Regions from separate parts of the Homo sapiens genome. Here all the other regions are reported to be linked to region 2. The links are microRNA targets in miRTarBase. Many come from high-throughput screens and were not tested one by one. Region 2 holds a microRNA gene; each other region holds the end of a gene's coding sequence.
The links. The annotated mature microRNA hsa-miR-3064-3p reads UUGCCACACUGCAACACCUUACA and lies in region 2 at 2,376-2,398, opposite strand. An mRNA with a match to its seed (bases 2 to 7 or 8) in the 3' UTR can be bound and repressed. Matches are read on the target gene's strand: a 7mer-m8 pairs with bases 2 to 8, a 7mer-A1 pairs with bases 2 to 7 and ends in A, and an 8mer does both.

Region 1: the mRNA of TPK1 is a reported target of hsa-miR-3064-3p. Seed matches in the 3' UTR shown: 7mer-m8 at 2,049-2,055 and 7mer-m8 at 2,081-2,087.
Region 3: miRTarBase lists ARK2N as a target of hsa-miR-3064-3p. Seed matches in the 3' UTR shown: 7mer-m8 at 653-659 and 7mer-m8 at 1,722-1,728.

Annotation. Positions count from the first base shown.
Region 1 is chr7:144,449,137-144,454,252 of GRCh38, reverse strand. It overlaps TPK1 (thiamin pyrophosphokinase 1), which reads left to right. Exons shown (of 9, transcript NM_022445.4): 9 at 590-2,312. The coding sequence ends at 708. It also overlaps the pseudogene RNU6ATAC40P. Among named protein-coding and RNA genes, the nearest start is that of NOBOX, 48 kb to the right of the region's middle.
Region 2 is chr17:64,498,400-64,503,664 of GRCh38, forward strand. MIR3064 (microRNA 3064) reads right to left here and starts at 2,440; the gene lies at 2,375-2,440. It overlaps DDX5 (DEAD-box helicase 5), which reads right to left. Exons shown (of 13, transcript NM_004396.5): 6 at 5,031-5,172; 7 at 4,789-4,949; 8 at 4,527-4,699; 9 at 4,040-4,150; 10 at 3,763-3,824; 11 at 3,611-3,670; 12 at 2,150-2,374; 13 at 1-1,927. The coding sequence ends at 1,524. MIR5047 (microRNA 5047) reads right to left here and starts at 2,914; the gene lies at 2,815-2,914.
Region 3 is chr18:46,262,567-46,267,682 of GRCh38, forward strand. ARK2N (arkadia (RNF111) N-terminal like PKA signaling regulator 2N) reads left to right here. Exons shown (of 5, transcript NM_145055.5): 5 at 363-4,426. The coding sequence ends at 552. Among named protein-coding and RNA genes, the nearest start is that of ARK2C, 69 kb to the right of the region's middle.

The sequences.
Region 1 (5,116 bases), not on the chromosome of region 2:
TGGCTGAGCTTAAGTGACTTGCTCAAGATTACACATTTGAAAGTCGGCTTTGACCTTTGAGTTTCTATTAATTTTACAGAATGTAAGCTGTATTCACTTTGGCTTTTCTTACTTTATGAGAAAACAGTAACCAAAATCACATGCATTTTTTTAGGTAATTTTCTATCTGTCTCATATCATTTCTACTTGAAGCTAAAACTACATTCTGTAGAGTGTAATAACATATTAAATTTTAATTCTGAATTATCAAGAGAAACTAAAATTGTACCCAGGGAAGGAAGTAAGTAGCACATTACAAATACAGGTTTTGGTTTTATAATTAGTAAAGAAAAAGAAAAGATTCTAATAAAATTTAATATTGAGAATGATATATAACCCAAAATGGTCAATAACCAATTCCAGGAAGAATGTTTACAGCAAGTTATAGAACTTACCCATTTTAAAGCCATACATCATATATTTCACCTATCCCACATTTATATATATTTTTATCAAAGTGTGTACTTGCTTTTTGGTAAGTGACAAAGTTAATCTACACTGGAGGAAGAAAAAAAATAGTTACTAATTTTTTTCCCTTATTTTCTTACAGCAAATGATGTGCTTGCTTTTGGAACATTGGTCAGTACTTCCAATACCTACGACGGGTCTGGTGTTGTGACTGTGGAAACTGACCACCCACTCCTCTGGACCATGGCCATCAAAAGCTAACCTGTTGACTGGCATCCATAAGTGTGCCTCTGCCTTATCTCATTTCTCAACAGTTCATTGCTCAACAAGAACGATTCACCTGGGTTTGCAAGAATCTAAACCTCTCTAGGGGAAGCCCACTGGGTTTAAAGATGTTAGTGTTTAGATAATACAGGTAACATTATAAATGACAGATCTCAATTTTATAGTAGTGGGAAAGATACATGCTAAGAAAGCAAATAAGCTCTATTATATTCGGTTGGAACCTAATGGGAATCATTCCACTATACAATTCAGTACTGATTATTCTTCTTACATTATTAATCATTCCATTTATCCTAGAAAATTGTTTTTAATTTGAATCAGAGAAAACTGTTGAGGTTCCTCTTGGAGTCTAGAACATCCTTAAATGTCTAACAACAAGGGCTACCTCTGAGTACCTTTTAGTATTAGTTTTCTGTATATGATATATATTATCTTATACTGAAAAAAAATTCCTTTCAGATTGGGGTGTTAGAAGTGCACCAGGTCACTCTGACCTTATTACTGTCTTTGGTATTGTCTTAAATAAATCAAGAATCATTGACCTAATTGTTAAATTTAAAAATAGGTAGTTAGCAATAGGTGGAAAGAGAAATGATGTGAAAGATAAATGATGATTCGTGGAGCCCTACTCACACATTAACCCCCAAATTCAAAAGTAAGAATGCAAAAGTCTAGAGGGGGTAACAGTCTGCATCATCATCACAACCTAAATGGAGAAAGCTGTGCAGAGGAAACTTAAGCATAAAAATTGAATTCGTTTCTGACATACCTTAGACTGAAAAACTGTTGGTTCATCCAGAAGTGTATTCATATTACCAGAAAATGAGTTTGTCTATGGGGATACATGAACTTCATATACTAAGGAGCCTAACTCCAAAGCCTGCGTTCTCATCCCAGTCTGATATTCACCTAAGTTTCCGGACCCTTTTCCTTAGCTGTAAAATGGAAGCGGTTGGACTGATGGTGTCTGAGGTTCTTTCCCACACTGAAATTCTAAATATTGACACTTAGCAGTCATAGGGCTGATAATACACACAGTTACTGACTTAGCCTAAACAACCTGGTGCATCGAAATGTATTCACCTTTCTTTTGTAAAGAGACCATCTTCTATCTTCTTTCCACCTTTCTCTGTTTTATGAAACCAACTGTTGACATACAAACCATGATTGAAGGAGAACCTGTCCAACATGTTTTATGTACACAAATCCCTATGTTGCTATAAGAAAAGTGAAAGTAACTGTTTTCTTCTTGGTGCTATGACAGTGTGAGACTCAGGTTGTCTGTAGAGAATGAAAGGAGCAGTGGCCCGCGTGATTGTGGCATTTAAGGAGCAGTGGCCCATGTGACTGTGGCATTTTCGGCACTTTTCATTACTTTCTGCTTGACCGGAAGTTGAGGCTTAGCTATGTTTCCATCTTCAGTTTCTGAAGACTAGTTATATATTCCTTACTAGAAATATATTCATAATATATAAAAGAAATATATCTGTGATTTTAAAATTTTGCTACCAAAGAATGCATGTTCTGTGTGCCCTGAAAATGTTACCAGTGTTAATAAATGGATACTTATCAAAAAAGAATATAGTTTCCTGAAGCTTAGTAAATATTGGGGGACAGGGGATAAAAAAAAGCACTGAGGCTTATCTCACACCATCACCTGAGTATCAGGCTGTAGCCATTGGGGGCCCACAGAAGGGGTTCTCTTAAAACATAGGCCACCATTCCCAGTTCCTGCCAGGCTACTGAGGAGTTAGGTGCTAGTTTTAACCATATGTGTGTTGTCAGGCCCGAGGGCCTCTTCCATTCTTGTCAAGGGGAGTGCTAACCTTTCATACAGCGCTAGGTGCTGGTTTTATTACAGTCAGCCCTCTGTATCAGTGGGTTCCACATCCATACATTCAGTCAATCAATCATGGATTGAAAATATTTGTAAAGAAAAGAATGGTTGCATCTGTACTGAACACAGACAGACATTTTTCTTGTCATTATTTCCTAAACGATACAGTACAACAACTGTTTACTTAGCATTTATATTGTATTGGGGATTTTAAGTAATCTAAAGATGATGTAACATATACGGGAGGATGTACATAGGTTATATGCAAATACCACATCATTTTATATCAGGGACTTAAGTATACCATCCACAGATTTTGGTATCTGCAGGTTGGGGGTTGGAGAAGTTGTCCTGGAACCAGTCCTTGCAGATATCAGGGGATGACTATATTTCACCCCTTCCCATTCCTTAAAACTACCTAAGTATGTTTTTCTCTTTATGTGCTATCCCACCGTGGCAGTTAAGTATTCACTTATTTTTATAACAATACAAGTCTGCAGATAGTGAGATCTCAGGTACACCCAGTGAACTATCTGAGCCCCCCTGGGAAGTCCCTCTTCTCTTACTCCTGTTCAGTTCAGATCCTGACCTCCAGCTTGTAGCCATAAAAGAGACTGCAGGTTGGGCCCTGCTGGGAAAGTGACAGGTGCTCCTTGACCTTCTGACTCCAGTCACTTTCTTATTTCTATGGGTCGGATTTGTAGCATTTATAAATCTAGTTATTGTCACCCCCAAATGTCATCTGTCTACCTAAATCACTGATTAGTGAAAACATGCTATGATCTCACTTCTCTTTAGAAAGCAGGGAAAATCTGAAAATCACTGCAGCTATTGCAACCTGGTTGGAGTCACACATGACCATGACATGTAATAAGTTATATGTGTGGTTCAAGGAATTGGGACTAGGGGGGCATGGGTGAGCATCACTCAGAGCAAAGAAGCGGTGGACACAGACTGGGGCATTCATACAGGTAAATGCTCAAACTTTTGTGTCACACTTCTATGTGTGTGGAATGCATTTTGCGTTCTGCTTCCGTGTGTGGCACAGACCTTGCCTACTACTGCTGCTCAGACTTTTTCCACAGCTTTACTTGAACTGTGAAAATAAAGCAGCACATAGATCTGGCCTGATTGCGACTGATGGTATGTGCCAAGTCAGTACGCAGCAAGAAACTGTTCTTCTCTTCTCCAAGGCTCTGTGATTTTGAGAGGGGTATGGTCAGAATGGTGACTTTCAGACTATATTTACCATGGCCCACTAGAAATACATCTGGTATACCTTGTGATCCAGTCCATAGACACACACAAACACAATAAAACATGCGTGTACTCCAGTAATTTTATTGTCAATTGAAAAACATCCAGAAATATATTCTAGATTGGAAAAAGAGTGCCTAAGGGCAGAGCAAAATGCATAAAGGTACCTTTTTTAAAAAGTGTGTGTATTTATGCAAGTGTTCTGCATTGAACATTCATTTTTTTTCATAAATTTAGGACAATAGGAGTGTAATTTTAAAAAATACTTCCCATCAAATAATTAAGATATCCCATTATTAAAGTATTTTAAAAATCTGTTTCAGAATTTATATGATTTCAATAAATTATTGAAAACTGGCATATTTGAGCGAGAATGTATCTGGAGATATTTCAACTTATTTGCCTCATAATTTAACCAAGGTCACACAGAACATTTTTCTACTCCTATTCTCGGTGTTTGTTTCACTGCCTTTATCACCAAACTAATAATAGTTTTTATTCTTACATGTGTGTTAAGAAGAATGATCTACCAATGACAGCAGGTTGAATTTGATCCTATTTGGGAATAAAACAGTCAACACAACTCTCTTAGGAAATGGGCAGGGGTATTAGATTATTTAAATTGTCTTTAGAGCAGTCTATTCAACATAAAATGAATTATCCTTATACCTGCGGAGATTAAAATCGAAGCTACAAGGTCAAGCCTTTCTTGGGAGTCACATACAGATTCGAAAATTCCTGGCATGTAAAGTACAAGTTTACCCTTCCTTGCCCACAGCAGATTTCACTTATCAATCATAATTTTCTTTTCTGATGATCCCCAGCCTAAGCCTCAGAATCTATCTCAAAACAATTCTCCAGGCAGCCTTGATCAATTAGCCTCCATTGGGATGGCATCCCTGGAGGCTCAGAGCGTGCAGAAAACAGCTCTGGGTACAACCCAGGAAAGAGGTCCTGGCAACATCACTCCTCTTCACAGGTCATGGGAAGTAAATAGATCCATGGACTGTTCTCTAAGTATTTCATTCTACCACCGAAAGCAAGGACTTTGTACACAACAAATAAAAACTAATTCCATCCCTGCAGATAACTTGAAAAATGTAAGCAAGGCCCCGAGAGCGCTCACAGTTGAAAAGTAGGAAATTTCTCACAATGGACCCATAGCTGGTGCCCGAGAACCAAGAAATCTGAGATGTATACAGAGTCCAGAGGTAGAAAAGTGTTTTTAACTAATAGTCAAAGGAACTGATAAATGTAGGATGGCAAATCATACCATAACCCTTATATTTT
Region 2 (5,265 bases):
AAAAGGCCCACGGTTAAGACATTAAACAGTAAAATATGTAATAAATGCTCCAACCTACCCTCTCCCCCGAAAGCTGCTTCTAAGTTTAAAACCATGAATTTGACTAACCATGCCATTGAAAACCATCCAGGTTACTACAGGCTGAATTAGTTTTCAATGTCTAAGTCCTAGAAATATCACTCCCTATCCCAGCCCTAGCAAATTCTAACTTTACATTTGACATAAGGCATTAACATCAATTAAAGCCTCAGTTTAATAATCAGAATTTAAATGAAGTCTCCTGAAGACCTCTCTTCTGGCAAAAAAAAACACGTATCAGACTCTGGGAAAACATTCAGACCCACTTCTAGCTATTACTGAAATAAATGATTAGAAAGTTACGTTGGTGAGCCGAAGTTAAACCTAAAGCTATCCCCTGGATCTTTCTAGCAATAAACCCATGTTGAACCTACCATGAAAACTTTCATTCACTGTGCTTTTGGTTACGTTGCCTCCTGATTAGTCATTAATTTTAATGAGGTTTTTTCCTTGTGTTGAGTATGAATAGACCTTACAGTTTGAGGATCTCTAGAATTCCCTGAATTATTGGAAAGACATTCATGACTCCCAGTGTGACTAGTTAAGAGCCCCAGGGAGCCTGTGAAGACTAGAATCTACAAGTAACCTGCACTAAGAACGAAATTCAGTAAAGGAGACTCAAGCTTAGCTCCTGGCCATCTTAAAGGGCTAATGTATGTCTTTCACAGGTTTGTTCAACATTTCAGTAATTCACAGTATAGCCAAGAGCATGAGTATAAGTCTCTTGAAAAAGCCAGTTATTTGGAGCTTTTTAAATTATAAACTTTGAAAAAGTCACCCACGTTCTCACACTATATAGATGACTTTGTATCTATTTTACTATTTTCTCATTTAACCATACTAGCAAATAAGGAAAAAGGCTATTAAATGACTCCCCTGATGCTGGAAGCTGACAAAGCTTTTATGCAATTTAGCCTGTAACTAAAAATTCACCTGTATCAATTCATTCTGACTCCTGCAATATGAATAGCTCATTATAAAGAAGGGCCTTCTGATTCCCCCTGCCTCCCAAATTAAATAAAAAGGAACAGTCATTTGTTTTCATGGAAAAAAAAAACCAAACAAAAACAAAAAAAAAACCAGACCATCTTAAGCAAAGTTTTACATGACATTATATAAAATAAAGTACAATTTCCACTTAATTCAGTCTTCAAATATTTTTTATTGGAAGGCCATGCATTGCCTTCATTTATTGTATTTCAAATCACTGTACATTTACTTTTGTGAAAACACTGCCTGCATTTTCTAGTACAAAAAAAACCTAAAAATTGTTTCAGGAATGTAGAGAAATATCCAACTTAAATAGCGAAAAAGTGCACCATAATTACTGCTGCACTGCAGTCATTTCTGCAATTCCCATGTTTCTTAAATAACTATCTTGTCAGATAACACACAATATAAAGAGCAATTATGAAAAACAGACATTTACATATACTTCTAAAGTCTTATTGGGAATATCCTGTTGGCATTGGATAACCAATCATAGGTGCAGCTGCAGTAGCAGGATATGCATATGCCTGTTGGTTCATACCATTGTGCATATTTGGAACATTACTTCCGTATTGCTGAGTGCTATCATAACCATTCTGGTAAGTCCCTGTTGGATTACCAGTCCTAAAACTGGTCTGTATACCAGCAGACACAAAATTACTTCCAAAGCTCCCATTGGTGTAATTTGCAGCACTGTAAACACCATTCTGAGTTTTTGCCCCAAAATCTCTTTTAAGCAGGCTAGAGTAACCTCTGTCATAATTTTCCCTGTCTCTAAAGGTATTAAATCCACCCCTTTTGCCCGCAGAGTATCTGTCCCGACGGTCATCCTTCATGCCTCCTCTACCCCTGGAACGACCTGTCAAGAAAACAATTGCAAATTGATCAATTATGTCTATGACACAAATCATTGTGGACAGAAAGAAACAGATCTATTCATGGTAGGCGTGAAATGTTTTTACAATTTTTCAGCTTAAGTTTTCACATTCAAGGTTTTACTCACCCTCCAATACCATTTAAATGGATTTGTAGACAACGATGTGACTCGTAACTACCAACATTTCCTATCAGTCATCCTTACCTGAACCTCTGTCTTCGACCAACTGAAGCAACTTGGGATTAATTGCTTGATTAGCTTCACGAAGCACAGAGATAAGGTCGCTCACTTGCTTTATGTTATTAGGTGTAAAGAAAGTGTATGCTGTGCCTGTTTTGGTACTGCGAGCAGTTCTTCCAATTCGATGAATATAATCCTCTGAGGAGTTAGGGTAGTCATAATTGATGACAAATTTCACATCTTCCACATCTGTAAGGTGTTGCAGTGTGGCAAAATAGCAATGTACGGAGTTTTGCACACCACAACAGCCAGACCAAAAATAAAAAGTTAGACAATTGTATTCCCAAGAAGGTACGGGCTGCAAAAAATACAGTTAAAATGGTTATCCATTTCCTGTAGGAATACCATTGAGGTTGAAAAAAGAAAAAAAAGCACATGTCATCTGTATAATTCATCACCCACCCAGTGACAGACCCTGTCAAAAGGAATGTGTGTTCCCTAAGCACATTCCCAAATCAGCAAGTTCCCTTACAGATCATCAAGTGACATCTGAATGCTTCTGCGCAGTAGGGCCACTTAAAGTTTCACAGCAACCTCTTCATGTGCTCATTTTGAGGACCTTGAAACAAAAAAATGTACAAGGTCCTTTGCATTACACATTCATCAGAAGTTCAAAATTCTGGCCACACTGCTTGTCTTGCCAAGACCTTACAACCGCAGCTGCAAGAAAACATACCTGTCCCCCAAAAGTTGTTTTTATGCACTGTGTCTCGTCTAGGCAAGCGCTTCCAAGAAGCCAGGATTCACTTGAGAATGTGTCTCTCTCTGGCAGGTCTCGACATGACGACTACTGTGTAGGTGAGGGAGGAACTTTCAAAGCACTTTCTTTTCCCACTTACTATGTGTGAGAAGTTGCTCCTGCTCTAGATCTCATGTGCCAGTACTCACCAATTTGTAAAAGGCTTAGTACCTTTTAAAGCTGCTCTCTCCATTTCAAACTTGAACAAAAATTTCATTGAACATTGAAGTTTGGAACTACTTCTTCGACATTTCAGCAAACTCACTGAAACTCAAAGACCCACAGATCACAGTGAACAGTTTGAAACAAGGCTGTACCATGGCAGTCATGCAAAGCATGGGACAGAAGAAATACCACGGCAGTGAACTGTGAGGATAACTTCCATTTTTTCCCTCGGAGAGAACAGTTTACGGGGCAGAGGTGATATGTTCTGCCTTTTGAAGATTACTGGCACACGTTCAGCTTTTTCACCTCTCTAATCGACTGGAAGCAGCCAGCCGATCACTAGTCCTCCATCCCCCTCGAGTCCTCCGATTGTCATGCCTAGGCCTTGCCACAAAGACAGCACCTTTATGTGAAAAAAAACTTAGAAAAAATGCAGGTTAAAGAAAGCAATAAACTTTCTTTAAAAAAGTTAAATGGAGATCTTCTGGGAAACCAAGCCATGAATGCGAGTTTGTACTAACCTAGCCCTCTGGAGGCCACATCTGTAGCAATCAGAATAGGAGCTTTTCCATGTTTGAATTCTACAAAGGAAGGCATATACATGATCAATTATCTGAGCAGAATTCTAGCTAGGTTAAGTAAGGGGGAAAAATACTTCATTTGAAATATTTACCATTTAGAACCCAGTCACGCTCTTGTTGACTCTTGTCACCATGGATACCCATGGCAGGCCACCTAAGTTAAAAGACAAGTTGTGTTATTAAACTCACATTGAAAACCTCAGACTCCAGTGCTTGACCACTTTTGGTCACAGATCTCTTTAATTTCGCCAGAAATGAAAAAGTTAAATTCACTATCAGATATGAAAAAAATCCACTGCTCGTGATCCAAGTTTGCCCTTTCCTAAGCTGTTTTAATCAATCTGCTTCAATGGAGGAGCTCACACATACCCATCTCTCCTCATTTTTCTGGTAAGCTCATCACATCTTCTTTTGGTTTCCACAAAAACAATGGTTTTATTCTCCTTCTCACTCATGATCTCTTCCATTAGACGAATAAGTCTAATAATAGGAGAGAGAAAGGAAAAATCCTGAGTTTTAAAAGACCATTGCTAGGGCCACACATTTATGGTCAGCAAAACATTAAGTTCAATTTACATGGCTGGAAGTCAAAGAGGAAACGCCTGCTAATCCACTTATCGAGCAGTTCGACCCTTGGTCCTTAAGTCAACCAGGGGACACATGAATTCCTTCTATAGGAAAGCTATAAATGGTGACAGCCATTATTTGAAGGATTCAAGAAATTTTCAGGATTAGTAGGCTAACTAAATGAAATCACACCAACTGAAATAACCTAAAACAACTCACCAAACAATGATCCCTCAATTTTACAGCAAAGTTGTTAGGAAGCAAATATAACAGAGTTAATAAAACTTACTTTTCATCCTTTTCTACGTCATGACACACATCCACAATCTGAAGAATGTTGTGGTTTGCACTCAGTTCAAGTGCACCAATGTTTATATGAATATAGTCTTTCAGGAAATCTTCAGCAAGCTGTCTTACTTCTTTTGGCCAAGTCGCACTCCACATTAGAGTTTGCCTATCAGGCTAATGGATTTTGGGGGGAAAAATTAGTATCAGACTCTTAAGAGTGAAAACACAATTCAGTTTGATCACATATTTCAAAGGACACTTACTCTTATTTGATCCACAATCTTCCTTATTTGGGGTTCAAAGCCCATATCAAGCATTCTATCTGCTTCATCAAGGACAAGGTAGGTTGTTCTTCTCAGATTGGTTTTTCCACACTCTAAAAAGTCAATCAGTCTTCCAGGTGTTGCAATACAGATTTCCACACCTTTAATTAAATACGTAAGTGTAACTACAATACCTAGGATATTTAGCACCAATGACAAATAAAACCCTTTTCATTACATACCTCTCTCCAAATCACGTATTTGTGGTCCCTTAGGAGCACCACCGTAGATACAAGTAGACTTCAAGCGACATGCTCTACAATATTCAGCAGCTACTTGCTGCACCTGTTGGGCCAGTTCCCGAGTTGGTGCCAGCACCAAACACTAAGGAAAGAGAAACAGCTTTCAGCACAAACCTGGATACTAGTTTTAAACTGCTAACTTATTATACTAGCAGATCCTTTCTTCATGTGTTGT
Region 3 (5,116 bases), not on the chromosome of region 2:
TTTGGGCATCTTAACTTTGTTCTGGATTTATGTGTTGCCCTATCATGAAGATCCCAGAGGTGTAAATGAGTCCAGAGAAACATCCTGTCACCCATGGTCAGTGACACAACTCAGGAGTTTCTGGCTGAGATAAGACCCTTGGCCTTTTTAAGGCTAAACTGAGAGAGGGACCAAGTGGGGTGTGGTGGGGTAGGGAGAGAGGGAGACAGAGATGGAGGGAAGGATATTGATTGTGGGTTTTATGAACTTGCATACTAGGTTTATCTTAGTAAAAATGTTGATAAGTACAACTGAGGTCATATTGTCTTCTGTTTTTCCTGTGGTGGAATTAACCATGCTTTTGTTCTTCATCTCAATTGCAGGTGTGTTCATCCTCGAGGTGGTGTGATTCAGAGTGTTTCTTCATGGAAGCATGGCTCGGGCACGCAGTATGTTAGCACCAGGCAAACACAGTCATGGACTGCTGTGACTCCCCAGCAGACTTGGGCTTCACCAGCAGAAGTTGTTGACCTTACCTTGGATGAGGATAGCAGGCGTAAATACCTACTGTAATACAATGTCACTGTGTTTCCTCTGCACTGTTCCCTTCCACTTCCTCATCCTCTTTGTGACATGGAAGTTCATTGTCATAGCTTCAGCTTCAGAAGCTGTTTGTGGCATTTGTAGGATTCAAACTCATGGAAAATTCCCTCCTCTTCCCCCCTTTTTTTAATTAAAAGAAGTCACTTAGGAAAATAACATCACAGAGAAAAGAATTTCTTCTTTCCCTCAGTAGGAATATAGAATGATGAATTTTATTAGACAACTTTATTTTACTTGGTGACTTTTAATCTTAGGAAACTCTGCCTTCCTTTTAGAATAATATTTTAATTGCCAGGCAAAATGGGTTTCAGTTTTTGAATCTTGTATTTATTTTTCTGTATAATGAAATTAATATCTAGACTTGACCACTATCTGCCCACCCCATTGGCACTCCCATCTTAGGGCATTCGCACACATATCAGTCAGGTCCTTATTGGCACCTAGTAGGGCATGTGCATTTAAAAACTTGTCCTTAAAAATAGAAGACAGAAGTATTAAAATTATATTTTCTTTTATTTTAAGTCTTCTGCCTTCTTTCTTGAGTTTGCTCCTGTTGACTTCCCACAGCACAGATAATTGACATGTCCCTTTGTGTTTATAAATACTACTAAGGTGACCTAGTTGTTCTCCTTGTTGCAATAATTAATAACTCTTTGCAAAATGTCTCCTTTGAGACAGAGGCATTTCAGATAGATACCCACCATGAGGTGTTCTGGGCATCTGAAGGTATTAAGAGTTCAGTGGGAAAAATCTCTCTCCCTCGCCTTTTTTTCTGGTTTAGTCAAATAACGGGTGAACATAGAAACCTGTTGGGAAGAATATGAAAAGTTATGTGGCCTCTGAGGCTACAGGCACTTGCAAATCCGAGAGGAAAGTGCCGTCTTTCATAGCTGGTCTCTGTATAAAGAGTATGTAGCAACAACTGTTTAACATCCGAGATGAAGTGGACCTGATGCTGTATTTGGGTATTTTTCTCCTCTACCTTCTAAAAAAAAATACCATAAGAAGAATCAGAATGTACCATAAGAAATCAGATGCAAAGCACGTTAATGTCATTGGTAAGTTTTACAGAGTCTAAAAGGATTAGCAAAGGGTAGCAGGAGCTTCAGGGAATTCAGGAAATGCCAGCATTGGAATTTTGTGGCATTAGTTACTACCTTCTTTCTTATAATATGTTGTAGTTACTAGTGAATTCTTTTAAAAGCAATACCTAGAGTTAGAACACTATGTACTCTGCACAGGGGGAGTGAAGTAATATTGGCTTAGAAGACTTCACCTTTTGTTTTTCATGGTTTTTGTTTGTTTTGTTTTTGTTTTTGTTTCCATTGTTACCGTTGCTATGGCCCTTTGCCTGTCTCTCCAAATCCCCTGGTGGCTCTTCTTATCATTAAGAGTATGAGAATTACCATTTTCAGTTTTCATTCAGCAAACAAATTTACCAAGTGCCTGCTCTGCATAAGGCACTGTGAGGGGTGGGTGCTCTGGGGGCTGCTGAGATGAATGACACACACCGCACATACACATGCATCAGTGTCTGCCTGCCTCCACCTGCCCAGCCTGTTCTTCTTCTTCTTCTTCATCTTCTTCTTTTTTTTTTTTTTTTGTAAAGACAAGTTTATTCCTTTACGCTTCTTGTTGCATTAGTTCTCCTGTATGTTCCTTCTTCCACAGGAATGTATTTGTGCATATGTTCTTTGATCTTCTCTGATAGCATCTCATTTGATCTGGCCTCTGTCCTTCATCAGCTTTTATTTTTTTTATTTTTATTTTCTGCTTTTGTTAGATAAGGCTTTTAAGATCATGAACCTCCAGCTTTAGCAACTCATATATCAGTCTCTCACATGGCCACAATTCTAGACAAAAACCAAAGACCCAGAGGCCAGAGCAAAGTAGGACCTTCTGAAGATTCACTACTGGTGTATCCTTGGACCTTCACATTTTACTTTAGGATTAATTTATTGAATTTTACTGTTACACATAGTTTTTGACTTGAATTAAAATACTAGACAAAGCAGAAATGTACAATTTCTGGTCTGTGTTTTCCAGGAAATTCATAGAGAAGAGAATAGAGTGGATGATGTGACTTGAAGTTTTTGCAGCTTATTTTTTCCCCCACTGTCAGGGCAGAGGCCCATTTTAATGAATGTTTTTGCATGACCTGTTCTTATGTTAACCACATATTTTTTTTCCCAATTCCACACAGCAGGTGATTTCCCGTGTGACATATTTTCTTCATAGTCCCTAATATAGTCATCCTCTACAGAGTTGGCGTGCTGTGTGCACTGTGGATTAGGAACAGAGTGGAGCTGTAACCAGTCTCTTCTCTGGCCCTTTGCCTTTATGTCAGCTTGCACTTTTGCCTCACTTATTCCTAGTCCAGCTCCCAACTGCCTGACTTAATGGACCAGAACGGAGATTTGGATATTAAGATGCAGAGGGGGAGGGGAAGGGATGGTAGAGATAGACAGCTCTCCCCTACTAGGTTGGGTCATTTCCCCTAATAACTATAGAGAGACTGTGTTTCAACTCTCTTTTCATTGCTGTTTCCAGAAGAGTGGAGAGTGTGGTTTCAGGCAAGGTATTAATGATACAATTCCGTGGTATACAGCTCCTGTGACATTTGAAGTTTCTTTTAAAGGGGTTTTTCTTAATCAAAGTTTTACATTTGGTAGCATAAGTAGTTCTTTATGCTTCACAGGACATTGTCTTCAGAGTAATCTCTCTGCTAAAATGGTACATGTGGGTCACAGATTGGTTTATGCCACTGACTTGGTTAAGTTTCCACCCCCTCCAATTTGTGAAAAACAGAGCAGTGACCTAGCTGTTGCATCATCATGACTGCCATGTAACCTGTAATTGCTGCTCTCCAGTAATTGTCTTTTCATTTTGATGGTAGGGGCCAGACTGAATGAATAATGCATTCTTTTTTATTCAATTTATTTCATTCAGTTTATTCTTGGCAATCAAACATCCCATAAACTTTGCTTTTATTATCAATTATGAATATGAATTGTCTGGTTTACTAATGTAGTCATTTGTTCATCTTTACTTTTAGCAGATTAGCACCATAACTAACTTAAAACTAAGTTTGTTACCTGCTTTTTATACTGTCACAAAGGTTTTTGAAAAAGCTGGGGACACTATTTTGTCTTTTAGTTTTAAACTTTTTTAAGGCAAAGCAAGCTCCCCAATCCCTGTTCTCCAATATGTGTATGATGTGACTTCCATGTAGATATAAAAATGATTGTGCCCTAACCAAACTTCCTCAGATTGTGCACTGTTTGTTTAAAATAATCACGTATTTTAGTCTGATGCTGTTGTATTTTTTCATTTTATTTAAAACACTACTTACTTCTTATTCTCTTAACAAATTTTAAAAGGTAGTGATCTTAAAAAAAAATCACTGGATAACTAGGAAATATTTTTGTTGTTGTTTTGTTTCTTAAAGAGTACAGAGGCCATTGAAGCCTTTTGCTCCTCTTACCGTGAAAATGAAATGTTAGCCATTGTATGGCTAGGAACCAATGCACTTGGCAGTTAATGGATCTGCTGTTGCTGGAGTGTGAGCGTGGACTTGATGCAGTGATGACAAATCATTGCTTAGAATTAATGTTTTCAAATGTGCAACTCTAGTTTTTAAAACAAAATTTGGTTCTTTACATTCATTATTTCGTTTTTGTTTCCCTTTAGTATTTAATGGTCTTTGGAGAAAAAATAATAAAACAGAGTGTTATATATATATTTTTTGGTGCAAGATAAGATTTTCTGTTTTTTGAAATAAGTCTGTAGCATAAAGGTTAAACTATTTTAAGACAAAATAAAATAGAGTGTATTTAAACAATGATATCTTCTGAGGTTTTTTTTTTTTTTTCTTTGTCCCTATCTGCTTCAGTTAATTAGGTGGTACCTGGAGCAATTTCCAAGTTACCTTTTAAATGTGAAAGTGGATTCTATTTTGTTAACAAGTCTTATCTTTATAAGATGTCTGAGTTTTCAAAGCAAGAGCTGTATCCTTGCAAGGTTACTTGCAAAACTACTCCCAAGAAGTTTTGCAAGTAACCTTGGATAATTGTTGGATGTTGATAAAAATAGCTTTGCATTAGCTTTCCTGTAACCCCACCTGAGATTTCAAAGAGGGCCAAAGACTTATTGTTCTGGGCACCTTTACTCCTGGCAACAAAACTTCACTGCTGGTTATTACTTTGCAGAGATCAGAGAGTCAAGGTAAGATGCTGCAACGGCATGCACTTTGCATGTGGTTAAACATTGAAGCAGGTATAGGGTGTTTGAAAAATAGACTGAATAATTTTTTCCATAGTTTGGTTCTATTTTCAGATTTTTAATTTGGTTATTAAAATGATAGGAACTACCATATTAACACCTCATGATGTTTGTAACTTATCTTCACATAAAGGGGAATGAGGAACCAGGGAGAGTGAAACCTCTTTTTATTAAAACATTCAACTCCTGAATCTCTTAGTTTTCCTCAAGAATTTTTGGTTCTGCTTGTACTGGAAAATGATCTGTTAACAAT